Regions from separate parts of the Homo sapiens genome. Here regions 1 and 3 are each linked to region 2. Evidence: fine-mapped expression QTL. A gene starts in region 2. Each other region holds a variant in brackets. All regions are shown on one strand. Distances are from middle to middle.

What was found. PIP is the estimated chance that this variant, and not a neighbour inherited with it, causes the effect. A credible set is the group of variants that fine-mapping cannot tell apart.
Region 1: its variant is the best candidate, but not a certain one, in a credible set for the expression of SLC22A16 in whole blood (INTERVAL, PIP 0.57).
Region 3: its variant is the best candidate, but not a certain one, in a credible set for the expression of SLC22A16 in whole blood (INTERVAL, PIP 0.87).

The regions. Positions count from the first base shown.
Region 1 is chr6:110,507,027-110,511,265 of GRCh38, reverse strand. No RefSeq gene overlaps it. Among named protein-coding and RNA genes, the nearest start is that of SLC22A16, 33 kb to the right of the region's middle. RefSeq lists an enhancer at 1-10. The variant T/C (reference allele first, on the strand shown) is at 2,416.
Region 2 is chr6:110,474,551-110,478,789 of GRCh38, reverse strand. SLC22A16 (solute carrier family 22 member 16) reads left to right here and starts at 2,177. Exons shown (of 8, transcript NM_033125.4): 1 at 2,177-2,268. The coding sequence starts at 2,216. It overlaps LOC105377938 (a long non-coding RNA gene), which reads right to left and starts at 3,273. Exons shown (of 2, transcript XR_942860.3): 1 at 3,128-3,273.
Region 3 is chr6:110,494,602-110,498,840 of GRCh38, reverse strand. No RefSeq gene overlaps it. Among named protein-coding and RNA genes, the nearest start is that of SLC22A16, 20 kb to the right of the region's middle. The variant T/G (reference allele first, on the strand shown) is at 1,683.

The sequences.
Region 1 (4,239 bases), 32 kb before region 2:
TTTGTCTGCCTCAGACTCTCGAGTAGCTGGGATTACAAGCATGCACCACCATGCCCAGCTAATTTTTGCATTTTTAGTAGAGACAGGGTTTCACCATATTAGCCAGGCTGGTCTTGAACTCCTGACCTCATGATCCGCCCATCTCAGCCTCCCAAAGTGCTGGCATGAGCCACTGCGCCTGGCCCCATACTTCTGACTAGCTATAGATTGGTGATTCCCATGAATCCCTCCTCATTTTGAGTATTTTGCTAGAATGTCCCCCAGAACTCAAGAAATCATTTTACTTATGTTTACCAGTTTTTTATAAAGGACACAAGTGAACAGCCAGAGGAAGAGGTACAGAGGGTAGGACCCAGCAGGGTCCCAAGAGCAGAGGCTTCTGTCCTGTGGAGTTGGAGCCAGCCACCCTCCCAGCGTGGGTTGGATGTGTTCACCAGCCCAGGAGCTCTCCAAACCCTGTTGTTAAGGGGTTTTTATGGAGTTTCTTACATAGGCATGATTGATTAAATCACTGGCCAATGGTGATCCGATTCAATTTCCAGCCCCTTTTCCCTTTCTAGAGGTTGGAGAGTGAAGGTTCCAATCATCTAATCAAGACTTGGTCTTTCAGGAGAAGGGCCCCTATCCTCAAGCTATCCAGAGGTCCTCCAGGAGTCACTTTATTAGCATAAACTCAGGTACAGTTGAAAGGGGCTTGTTATGAACAGTAAAAGATGCTCCAATTTTCCCTATCACAGAGGAAAACTCCAAGTGTTTTAGGAGCTCTGTGTCATGAACCAGGGACAAAGACTCAGTATATATTTTCTATTATATTTTACCACAGTGTTAAGGAAAAGGGGTCCTGATCTACACCCAAAGGGAGGGTTCTTGAATCTCATGAAAGAAAGAATTCAAGGTGAATCCATACAGTGAAGTAAAAGTAAGTTTATTAAGAAAGTAAAGGAATAAAAGAATGGCTACTCCATAGGCAGAACAACCCTTGGGGCTGCTGGTTGCCCATTTTTATGGTTATTTCTTGATTATATGATAAACAAGGAATGAATTATTCATGAGTTTTCCGGGGAAAGGAGTGGCAATTCCTGGAACTGAGGGTTCTTCCCCATTTTGGACCATATAGGGCAACTTCCTCATGTTGCTATGGCATTTATAAACTGTTATGGCACTAGTGGGAGTGTCTTTTAGCTTGCTAATACATTATAATTAGTGTATAATGAGCAGTGAGGACAACTAGAGGTCACTTTCATCACCATCTTGGTTTTGGTGGGATGTAGTTGGCTTTACCACATTATTTTTTCAGCAAGGTCTTTATGACCTGTACCTTGTGCAGACCTTCTATCTCATCCTGTGACTAAGAATGACTAACCTCCTGGGAATGCAGCCCAGTAGGTCTCAGCCTTATTTTAACCAGCCTTTATTTGAGATGGAGTTGCTCTGGTTTGAATGCCTCTGACAACAGTACCTTTTGAATTTTGACCTATGTATACAAACACACACACACACACACACAAACACAGAAGTATTAATACTGAGTAATACTGAGAGTTGGGGGGATGCTCAGAAAGACTGAGTTACCCAAGTTCACATAATTTGCCATGGTCAGAGATGGACCTCAGGTTTCCTTACTTCTGTTTGAAGGTTTTTTCCAATATGCTGTGATTACTTTCTCATCTCTTTGAAGATGTTTACTGCTTTCATGACTTCAGAATGTCTGAGTATTCTAGTTTTCAATATCTAAAGGGGAATCCTTTAGATTTAGGGGCATGGGGGCCACTTGTGGGAGGTCAATGATATTTCCTCACACATTAATGCAATTTTTCTCCAATATTCAATGCAAGATATGGTATATAGAGAGGCAACCATGTATATCATGCAAATTGAGAAAGACTTGGAAACTGTCCCATCCAAAAGTACTCATCTATTAATCTGCTCAAAGAAATATGAAAGAAAACTTAGAAGAAATCCCACTACTGTGTAGTATCTCTTAAGTAAATTGCAAATATTTCTAGGAGAAGTGCTCTTGAAATGGGAGAGTTCCCTGACCACCCTTAAAGGACATGCAACAGGGGTATGGCTCATGTGTTTGGTCACCACACACTCAAACCCCTAACAGGAGTGGGAGCACACAGCAGGGCAGGCACAGGAGCTGGGGCGAGTGCTTTGAGGCTCCAGCCCCATAGCAGCATCTGGAGTGGGTGCCTGTGACTCCCAAAACCCAAGTGGGCATGGCATGTGTTACAGTGCACTCTTTTAGCTTTGATGTCCACAGATGGTGTAAGTGTTAACCAGCTCAGTGGATCCTCTGCCTTTTTGCAAGGGCAGAGGGCCAGTGTGACAGCTTACTGTATCCCAAGCTCCTGTCTAACATCCCAGAAGAATCAGGTCACACATGGACTTGAAGGGTAGTGAATGTGGGGG[T/C]TTTATCGGGTGGTAGAGGTGGATCTCAGTGGGATGGATGGGGAGCTAGAAGGGAGATGGTGTGGGAAGATGATCTTCCCTTGGAGTTTAGATGCTCTTTCTCTTCTCTGCCACATCATTCTGCTGTTCTTCTGCTCTTCTGTTCATCTTCTCATCTCCTTGTCTGCTCATCTGCTTCTGGAACCTGAGGTCTGTGGTTTATATGGGTACAGGATAGGGGGGTCAAAAGACAACTTTTGGGGCATGAAAACAGGAATGCCTGTTCCCATTTAGGGCCATGAGTATCCAGGCTTGAGGATGGGGCCTTTGCTGGGGAACCACCCTCTTCTACCCAGTATTTCTCTGTCTCCTGTCCATATCACTCTTACACTGTCAACAACTATTATTAACTCCTGAAAAAATGAATTTATCAGATTCCTACTTGCAGGTCAGATTCTAACAGCAGGCTCCTACAGAAATGGGACAAGTGGTTGATGAAGAGTCAAATTCTGTAAAATATTTTAAGAGATTTATTTTGAGCCAACTTTGAGTGACCATAGCCTATGAAGGAGCCCTCAGGAGGTCCTGAGAACATGTGCCTGAGATGATTAGGCTGCAGCTTGGTTTTATATATTTTAAGGAGACATGAGACTTCAATCAAATTCATTTAAGAAATACATTGGAGGCCAGGTGCTGTGGTTCATGCCTGTAATCCCAGAACTTTGGGAGGCTGAGGTGGGTGGATTACCTGAGGTCAGGAGTTCGAGGCCAGCCTGGCCAAATGGTGAAACCCTCTCTACTAAAAATACAAAAATTAGCTGGGTGTGGTGGTGTGTGCCTGTAATCCTGGCTCCTCAGGCTGAAGCACAACAATCGCTTGAACCCAGGAGGTGGAGGTTGCAGTGAGCCGAGATTGCGCCACTGCACACTCCAGCCTGGGCAACAACGTGAGACTCTGTCTCAAAAAAAAAAAAAAAAAAAAAAAAGAAATACATTGGTTTGGTCCTGAAAGGTAGGACAACTTGAAGCAGGGGTTTCCAGCTTATAAGTAGATTTTAAAATTTTCTGGTTGGCAGTTGGTTGAGTTTATCTAAAGACCTGGGATCAATAGAAAATAATGTTTGGATTAAGATAACAGGTTGTGGAGGCCAAATTTCTTATTGGCAGAGGAAGCCTGCAGGTAGTCGGCTTCAGAGAGAATAGGTTGTAAAATGTTTCTTATGTGACTTAAAGTCTGTGTTGATGTTAATGCTGGAGAGGTATAATGAGCCATGTCCAACCACTACTTCCCATCATGGCCTGAAACAATCTCTCAGGGTAAATTTTAAAAGAGCCCTGGCTGAGTAGGAAGTCCATTCAAGTGGCTGGGGGGTCTTGGAATTTTTTTTTTTTTTTGGTTTACAAAGGGATAATAAATTTTGATTTAAAAAACAAAGCACCTGAGGGGTGGGCTCAGTGGCTGATGCCTATAATTTCAGCATTTTGGGAGGCCAAGGTGGGAGGATCACTTGAGGTCGGCAGTTTGAGACCAGTCTGTGCAACATAGGGAGACCTTGTCTCTACACACACACACACACACACACACACACACACACACACACATGATCTGAGGATCTTTGTTTTTTTCTTCAAAGACAGGGTCTTACTATGTTACCCAGGTTGGATTTGAACTTCTGGACTCAAGGGATCTTCCCATTTCAGCCTTCCAAGTAGATAAGACTATAGGCATGTGCCACCACACGCATTCTCTCGGTTTTGTCATCTGTAAAACGAGTGAGCTGGACCAGTGTGTCCTCAGATTTCCTTCCTTCAGAGCTCTGTTCTGGCTAAATGATTTTTCAAATC
Region 2 (4,239 bases):
CTACTCCTCACTACCCTCTCATCTTCCCCCCACCTTGTATCCCTCTAGCATTCCTCACCTGAAGAACTTAGGCTTTCTTAAGTCTCTTTAGTTAGCAGGAAACTATCTAATTTAAAAACCCTCTCCAAGTTGTTTATTACTTAAGGGATTAGTCCTTCCAAGAGTATTTATGTTTCAGAAGAGAATGTCTAGATAGGATTGTGCATAACAAAAATAAGTCAATTTTTAATGGTGTTATTGTAGGCTCTGTGACAAGTAGGGGAGGGAAGCACTTTGGGAAATGGACTCTCCTCTCTTTCAAATATTATTCAAGTACAAGTTTGCGCCTGTTACTCTTCTGCTTTAAGACTGTCTACAGGGAGTTCTCCTTGTCCTTTGGTCAAAGTAAAATGTTCAACACAGCCTTGCAAGATCCTGCCGCTTCTCGGAGCCATCAGACCCACTCTTGATGCTCTGCTCTGGTAGAGCTCTGCCCTGGCCCTCAAACTGTTGGACTTCTCTGAGAAAGCGATAGGTGTGCTCAGATTTTAAGGATGAGGTGGAGAAGTTCAGAGAGAGGGCATTTGCTATGGAACTGAGGCTACCAAAGTGACGAAGAGAATGCATCCCTGTTCTCTAGGAACTCAAGGTTTAGTGGCCTTATAGAGTGGAATAGCACGCCAACAGTGGGGCCAGTGACTGCCAGGCTGACTAGAGAAGGCAACTCTCACTGTGGATATAGTCGGAAACTGGCTTTTCTGCTTCAGCGCTGTGGACCAGCAATTGACCTTTCTTCCCTAAAGTTCATTCACTTGATACCTTCCAGAAGGAAGGTCACCCCCTGCCTGGGTTGGCTATGGGCCAAACCCCTGCCCACTCCAAAGTGTGGCTTGGAATGCCATGGTCTGCTTATTAAAAATCAGATTTCGGGAGGCCAAGGCGGTCGGATCACGACGTCAGGAAATCGAAATCATCCTGGCTAACACGGTGAAACCCCGTCTCTACTAAAAATACAAAATATTAGCCGGACGTGGTGGCGGGCACCTCCCCGCTACTTGGGAGGCTGAGGCAGGAGAATGGTTTGAACCCGGGAGGTGGAGCTTGCAGTGAGCCGAGATTGCACCACTGCACTCCAGCCTGGGCGACAGAGCGAGACTCCGTCTCAAAAAAAAAAAAAAAAAAAAAAAAAAAAAAAAAAAAAAAAATCAGATTCCTGTTCCCCAGGCATCCTGAATCATCAGGGATGGAGTCTCAAAATAAATGTACATTTATTTATTTTTTATTTTTGTATAGACGAGGTGTCGCTATACGTTGCCCAGGCTGGTCTCAAACTCCTTGGCTCCAGCAATCCTCCTGCCTCGGCCTCCCAAAGCACTGGGATTATAGGCCTGAGCCACCACGCCGGCCTAATTGTACTTTTATTTTTTTGAGACGGAGTTTCACTCTTGTTCCTCAGGCTGGAGTGCAATGGCACGATCTTGGCTCACCGCAACCTCCGTCTCCAGGGTTCAAGCGATTCTTCTGCCTCAGCCTCCCGAGTAGCTGGGATTACAGGCATGTGCCACCACGCCCGGCTAATTTTGTATTTTTAGTGGAGACGGGGTTTCTCCATGTTGGTCAGGCTAGTCTTGAACTCCCGACCTCAGGTGATCCGCCCGCCTCGGCCTCCCAAAGTGCTGGGATTACAGGCGTGAGCAAGTGCGCCCGGCCTTAAATGTACCTTTTAAACCAAGTTCTGCAGTAGATTCTTAGGCATTAAAGTTTGAGAGCCATGTTTCTGAGGGGCGTCATGCTGAAGGCTATATATTCTTGCGGCCCCCGGACCGAGCCTAGCCCTTGCATTCCCACCCTGGGCTCTCTCTCAGCGACAACTTTTCCCAGGCGTCGGGGCTTCCCTCGAGCGTGGCGACCCCGCAGACATGGTGCCAAGAGCCAGGGTGGGCGGCGGGGCGGGTGGGAGAGCGGCGGCGCTGGGGGCGAGGGCACCATGCGACCGCGGGCGCCGGGACCACAGCGCGCCGGGAAGGAGGCCGAGGCGGCAGGAAAAAAGCCGAAGATACTTGGGGGGACCGAGGGGCCAAGCGACGGAGGGAGGAACAGAATACAGCCTCGCGCTGGTCCCGAGCACTGGGACGCGCGGGGAGAGCAGGAGGCCGGGCGGGGAGGTTCGGGGCGGGGCGCGCTACCCGCAGTCCCCGGAGCTCGGCTAACTCGGCGCCCAGTGCACGGCCGCACCATGGGGTCCCGCCACTTCGAGGGGATTTATGACCACGTGGGGCACTTCGGCAGGTATGGGGGAGGGGCCCCGCGGCGCCACGCGGGAGGCGGCGCCGAGGGGTCTGTTTCTTTCCGTTGCGGCGGGGTTCTCGCGCGGCGCTCGCGATCCGAAAACATCTCCACTTCCTCCTCACCCCGCGCAGTCGGGACACGGGCGTCCAGACGCCGGCCCCTAGCTGGGCTTCTCCTCTAGGCCTCTGGCAGCGGGACCTGGCATGGTGAGCAGAGGCGCTGGGCTCGCTCGGAGTGCGCCTGTTGCCGGGCAGGAGGGACCTGGTGCGTGCTCTCCGCGGCAGCAGATGCTGGAGGCATCTGGCTGGAGATCTGGCTCGAGGGGCCAGATCTCACTCGTAGGGGGTGCCTGTGCCTGGCCGCCCGTTTCTCTAATCCGCCGCCACTTCCCTAGACGGCTGCTGCCCAGTTCTGCCCTGCGCCTCCGTAGGGCCTCCCTCTGTGCCTGGCAGGTGTTCCCCAGGGACAACCGTTAGTCAGAGTTGGTTGCCGTTTATTAAAACCTAATACGTGCCAGGTACACTGTACCTGGCGCTTACACATAGTTCTTCATTTGATGTTCACCGGGACCCTGCAAAGGAGGTGTTCAAATCCTTATTTTAGTGATTGGGAAACAAGCTGGCGGGGTCAAGGACTCATAGCCAACGCATGGTGGAACCACGTTTAACCTCCGTACACCCTCTTTTCATTTGTCAAATTGATTTAAAAAATTTAAATTATTCATTCGTTCGTTCACTCATGGACAGAGCTCCTCTATCTGACTCAGAGTGTTTTGAGAGGGGAGGTAGCCGGGTGAGGGGCCATGCAGCGTTATGGCCGGAGATTTGGAGCTGCGTCTCGATCCTGGCCTGCTACTTACCTCTGATATGATTCTGGAGATACTTTGTGTGTCAGTTTCCTATCCAGAAAACGGGAATCAGGCTTAGCAAAGAGATGATGTGGTGCTGTTCTTCAAGGTGGAAGGTTGCATGCGTTTTGGTTTTGATTCCCAGTGTCTGCAAAAAGGAGCTGTTAGGACAGAGGAAACGGGCAGGAAGCCCCAGCTGTTCCCTTCTTCCTCTGCTTGCATCATTGAACGCTGCCTTGTGCCTGGCTCGGTCATAAGCCGTTGGTACATGTTACTTCCTTTAATCTTCACTACAGCCTTATAAGGTTGGTAGTATCACCCTCTTTTCACAGATGAGAAAACCAAGGTTTCTGCCTAAGCACAAATCTAATACTAGCAGGGCAGAATTGGATGCCATTGGATGCCCATCACCTCCACAGCCCACACTCTCAACCATGATGCACTCCTGAGCACGGTTAGGTGACGGCTCCTCAGCTGGGCCAAGCTCTTTATGTATGATCTCATTTCATCCTTCTGGAAGCAGAATAGCACAGAGGTTAAAAGATCAGTTTTAAGGCTGGATGTCTAAGTTCCCACTCTGGCGCTACCACACATTAACTATACGGTCTTGAGCATTTTATTTACCACTTTCTTATCTGTAAAATGGGGCTAATAATAGTACAAATGTTTTCAAATAGGAGTAGTGAAAATGTGTATATGAGGACTCTGCATGCAGTTTCTCATCCTTACAGTAACTCAATGAGGTAGGTGGTACTTACATCTTAGTTCCCCTGTGTTTTTTAGGGATTAGCTGAGGTAATTATATTAGTTGGTGTTTGACTAAAGTGCCCAATCAAACAGATTCCTCAAATGGAAGTTTATGCCTCTCCAGTAACTGCCCACAGCAGGATCTGTGCCACGAGACCATTCAAGGACCCTGGCAGGTGGGACAGCTCTGTCATCCACTGCATGGGGCTCCCTGTCTGTGCCTGGAGCAGCTGCGCACCCATGGTGACAGCTCACTACGGTGAAGAGGGGGCAAATGGGTTTGAGGAGACAGCTCTTAGCTGGCCACCATAATGTATGCAAAAGTCTTATTATTCAGTAAGTTCTCAATAAGTCATGGCTATTATCATTACCTGAGT
Region 3 (4,239 bases), 20 kb before region 2:
CGTGGAGCAGGGACAGGTTGCTTCCAGGTAGCTTCAGTGCATCACATTCCGCAACCGTCTGCTTCACACCCCAGCCCCTTAAGAAATACACTTTGGAAGCAGAGCTCGAAAAATTTCTCTGTTGCCTTCCTCAGACCTGCTCCTTATTTTTTTGATAACTTTGGTCAGTGTCACTGTGGGAAGCAGCTAGCTATCTCGAAGGTGTTAGTTGTTATTCTTCAGCTCACTCACAGACCTGTAAACACACACACACACACACACACACAGATGCACACACACCTTTCACCTCTCTACTGATGCTGGCAGAACCCATCTTCTGCTACATTCTTTGCATTTCTAACATCAACATGTTATAACACTCAAGGTTCCTAGGCCAAAATTTTATCCATTTCATGTTCTTTGAAAGAGACTGATAGTAGGTATTCCAGGTCTTTTGCACATTCTACAGATCCCCTGTTTGTTTCTTTTTTTTATGCTAAGAGGGAAAACATTTCATTCACTGGAACCTTTCTTAATTCACTGCATTTGTTTAGGAACCAATCCTTTCAAAACTGCTCCAGGTAGAGCCCTCAGCAGGTGTGCACGTGAAATACATCAGAGAAAGACTGTGCTGTCCAGGATAAGAGGGAAACATGCATCATTTTGAAAGAGAGTGGGGAGGGAGGGAAAGGCGGAAAAGAGGGAGGAGGAAAGAGAGAAGCTGGAAAGGTCAGACCACCATCCTGTCAGATACTCAGGCTTGTAACCTCCTCTCCCCTCCTCACGTTTATTTGCTGACCCCAGGGAGTAGGTTCCCATAGCCTGTCATTCTTCTCCATCATTGAGTGAAGCCCTTTATTCTGTATCTACTATCATCTCTTTAACCTGGATGGTGAATACTAGGCTCCCAGAGAATCTTTCTGCCATCAGCTTCTCCACCCTCCTCCACTCTCTGCTACACCCCATTATCAGACCAATCTTCTGACAGCACCACTCTGGACAAAAACTTCAGTAAGCTCCCCACTGTCCATTAACTAAAGCTCAGTAGTCTTGGCCTAGAATTCAAGGCTCCCCTCCTCCTTGTGGCCCCAACTTTATTGACTTATCACAAGCCAGGTACTCTGTTAAAAGCATCTAAATGTTAATTTGTCCATCTAAAATCCCTTTCCAGGAATGTGCTTTCTCCCCCACTTCCTCTCCCAGTCTCTGAAGTGTTGCGCTGCTATTGATGAGAGATGAGCATATGATGCAGGCCAGCCAGTCAGAGCATTTCACGGCCTGGCTACAGGCCAGCCAATCAGAACCCTTCACAGCCTGGCCATGGGCCAGCCAATGAGAGCTTTTCACAGCCTGGCCACAGGCCAGCCAATCCGAGCATTCTACTCTCTGCCGCCCCACCGCCACTCTCAGCTTTCTTTCTTTTTTTTTTTTTTTTTTTTTTGAGATGGAGTCTTGCTCTATCGCCCAGGCTGGAGTGCAGTGGTACTATCTTGGCTCACTGAAACCTCTGCTTCCTGGGTTCAAGCTGGTCTCCTGTCCCAGCCTCCAGAGTAGCTGAGATTACAGGCAAGTGCCACCACGCCTGGTTAATTTTTGTATTTTTAGTGGAGACAGGGTTTCGCCATGTTGGTCAGGCTGGCCTCGAACTCCTAACCTCAGGTGATCTTCTTGCCTCAGCGTCTCAAAGTGCTGGGATAACAGGC[T/G]TGAGCCACCGCGCCCGGCCCCATCCTTAGCTTTCTGAAATGTGATGTGTAGGTGTGGTGGAGAGGGGGCTTCTCTCTTCTGGGTTTGAAATCTACACAGAGAAGCAGAGAGGAGAAGTGATGGAGAATGAGAGAGAAAGGGAGACCTGATGACACTGTCTCTCTGGATCCCATGGCACGTGGGGCTTGTTCCACCTCTGGACTTTTCCCAGAGTGAGTCAAAAACGTCCCTTGTTTTCTTCGGCCTGTTTGAGTTGGGTTTGCTGTTACTTGCAGCTGAAGCCATGAAGAAAGTGTCGGAGGCGAGCGACGACTATCTGGACAGGTGGCGGGGAGATAAAAGAATTTACCAAGACAGGCCGGGTGCGGTGGCTTACGCCTGTAATCCCAGCAGTTTGGGAGGCTGAGGCGGGCGGATCACCCGAGGTCAGGAGTTGGCGACCAGCCTGACCAACGTGGAGAAACCCTGCTTCTTTAAAAATTCAAAATTAGCCAGGCATGGTGGCGCATGCCTGTAATCACAGCTACTCGGGAGGCTGAGGCAGTAGAATCGCTTCAAGCCGGGAGGCGGAGGTTGCTCTGAGCTGAGGTTGCGCCATTGCACTCCAGCCTGGACAACAAGAGTGAAACTCCGTCTCAAAAAAAAAAAAAAAAAAATTTACCAAGGCAGTTGTAGGTAGAAAAAGGCAGATTCATTAGAGAAAGTATGAAAATACCTTTCCAGGAAGCAACGGGCAGGCTCAGCAGAAGAGGCGCTGACTGCAAAGAAACAAAGGCTTGCTGGAGGTTTTATAGGTTGGTTCTGAGGCTGCAGAGTGTCTCATTCAGTACTGATTAACGCCAAGGTTGCAGGGAGCTAACTTGCATTTTTTCGTATCAGCTGAAGGTCTGGTGATAGCTCGGTGTAGGAAGATTGTGAGTTATTTGTGTAGGAGGGCTGTGTGTCCTGGAGCATATAGAAAGGCAGACTTGTAGCTTATCTGCTTCTTCTTTTTGCTTTCCCTTGCTCCCACCAGCCTGACTCCCTTTCCCTAATTAGGACGCCAGAGAGAGCACTTAAGAGGGCCTATGTCATTTGATCCTCATGACCACCATGAGGCAAGACTGTTAGTTCACCATTTTGATGGGGAAGTGACACCTGAGAGATAAGCCAGTGCCCAAGGCCTCACAGTTTTTAAGTGGTAGAGACAGAATTTACAGCCAGGCCTCTGACTCCGAGGCTGCTCTCTTAACGATGAGTTCCAAGGCCTTCCAGGAAAATGTACCCGGTACTTCCTATGTGCCGGGCACTAGGCTAAGCGCCACACACTTGTCCTCTCCTCATCTGCTGCTGTTTCCAGCGTGTTCCACACGCCCCTCAAACAGGTCCTGGGTTTTCCCACATCTGCATCTTTACCTGGAACATGCTCTTTGCCCCACCTCTGCCTGGCAATGTTTACTTATCTTTCCAATCTTGGATCAAATGTTGAGTCTTTCTGGAAGTCTACCATACTCAGAAGCAAGTACTTCCTCCCTGGAGTCTTAAGGCTTTTGATTTGACCCCCAGGCCAGTCGGCTGCCTTTGAGCGCTGATGGCACAGGAACTTGTAGGCATTTCTTAGGGAGAGTGGGGAACTGACAGTTTGAAGTTACCAGATTTAGGTTCTAGTTATTTTGATGGCATCTCGGCAAAACACCACACTTTTCGATAACAAGAAATGCCACTGTCATGGAATGGGCAGTGGCTTTGGGGTAAGACAGGGCTGGGTTTGAATCTGTCTCTGCAACTCTAGAGCTTGGGTGACATTAAAAAGACTACCCATTCTCTCTGAGTCTCATTTTTCTTATCTGAATATGAGGATGACAGCAGTGTTGATCTTAGAGATCTGAGAGAAGTAAATGGGATAATGAATGCTAAGGGCTTAGCACAGTGTCTGGTGCCATGTATGTATGTTTTTACATAAAGGATTACATCTTAAACTCATTTTTGCCCCTGCACGCAGAGAAGATGCAGGTAACACACGTACTTATTAAATGAAGGACCAAATCTTATGAATATCCCTCCTTTAAACCTTCTCCTAGTCTTTGATAGCAACTGGCCACTTGTAGTTGCTTAAAGAAGCTAAAGAGAATTGGAAGCAGCAGGATGGAAGAGAGGTGGAGGGAAATGGGAGTCAGAAAATAAACGTCCTTTTAAGAAAGGCCATCATAAGAGCAGTGCAGGTGTTCCAGCGAGGCAAGAACCAGGGTTAGCTTTGTTCCTTAGATGACCCACGCTTCATTCCTTACTTTGTCTTTTCTTAGAGGACACAGGGTGAGATGACCAATGACATAGGCTGCATTGTTCCTTTTGGAATTGTGCAGTGTTCCCAGTTCAATCTTCCTCATAAGCGGGAGTGAGGCAGTGGTGCAGTGGTGGTGCTGCCATGGCGGTAACAGCAGCTGCCCAGCAGCTTCCTGATCTCTGGGTTGAAACTCTGGTGGTGTGACCTTGAAACCAGTACTCATGTTATGACCCCTGACTTCTCCTCCAGCTCTTCCAACAATGTTGAAAGCATATAATTATCTTACTTATATC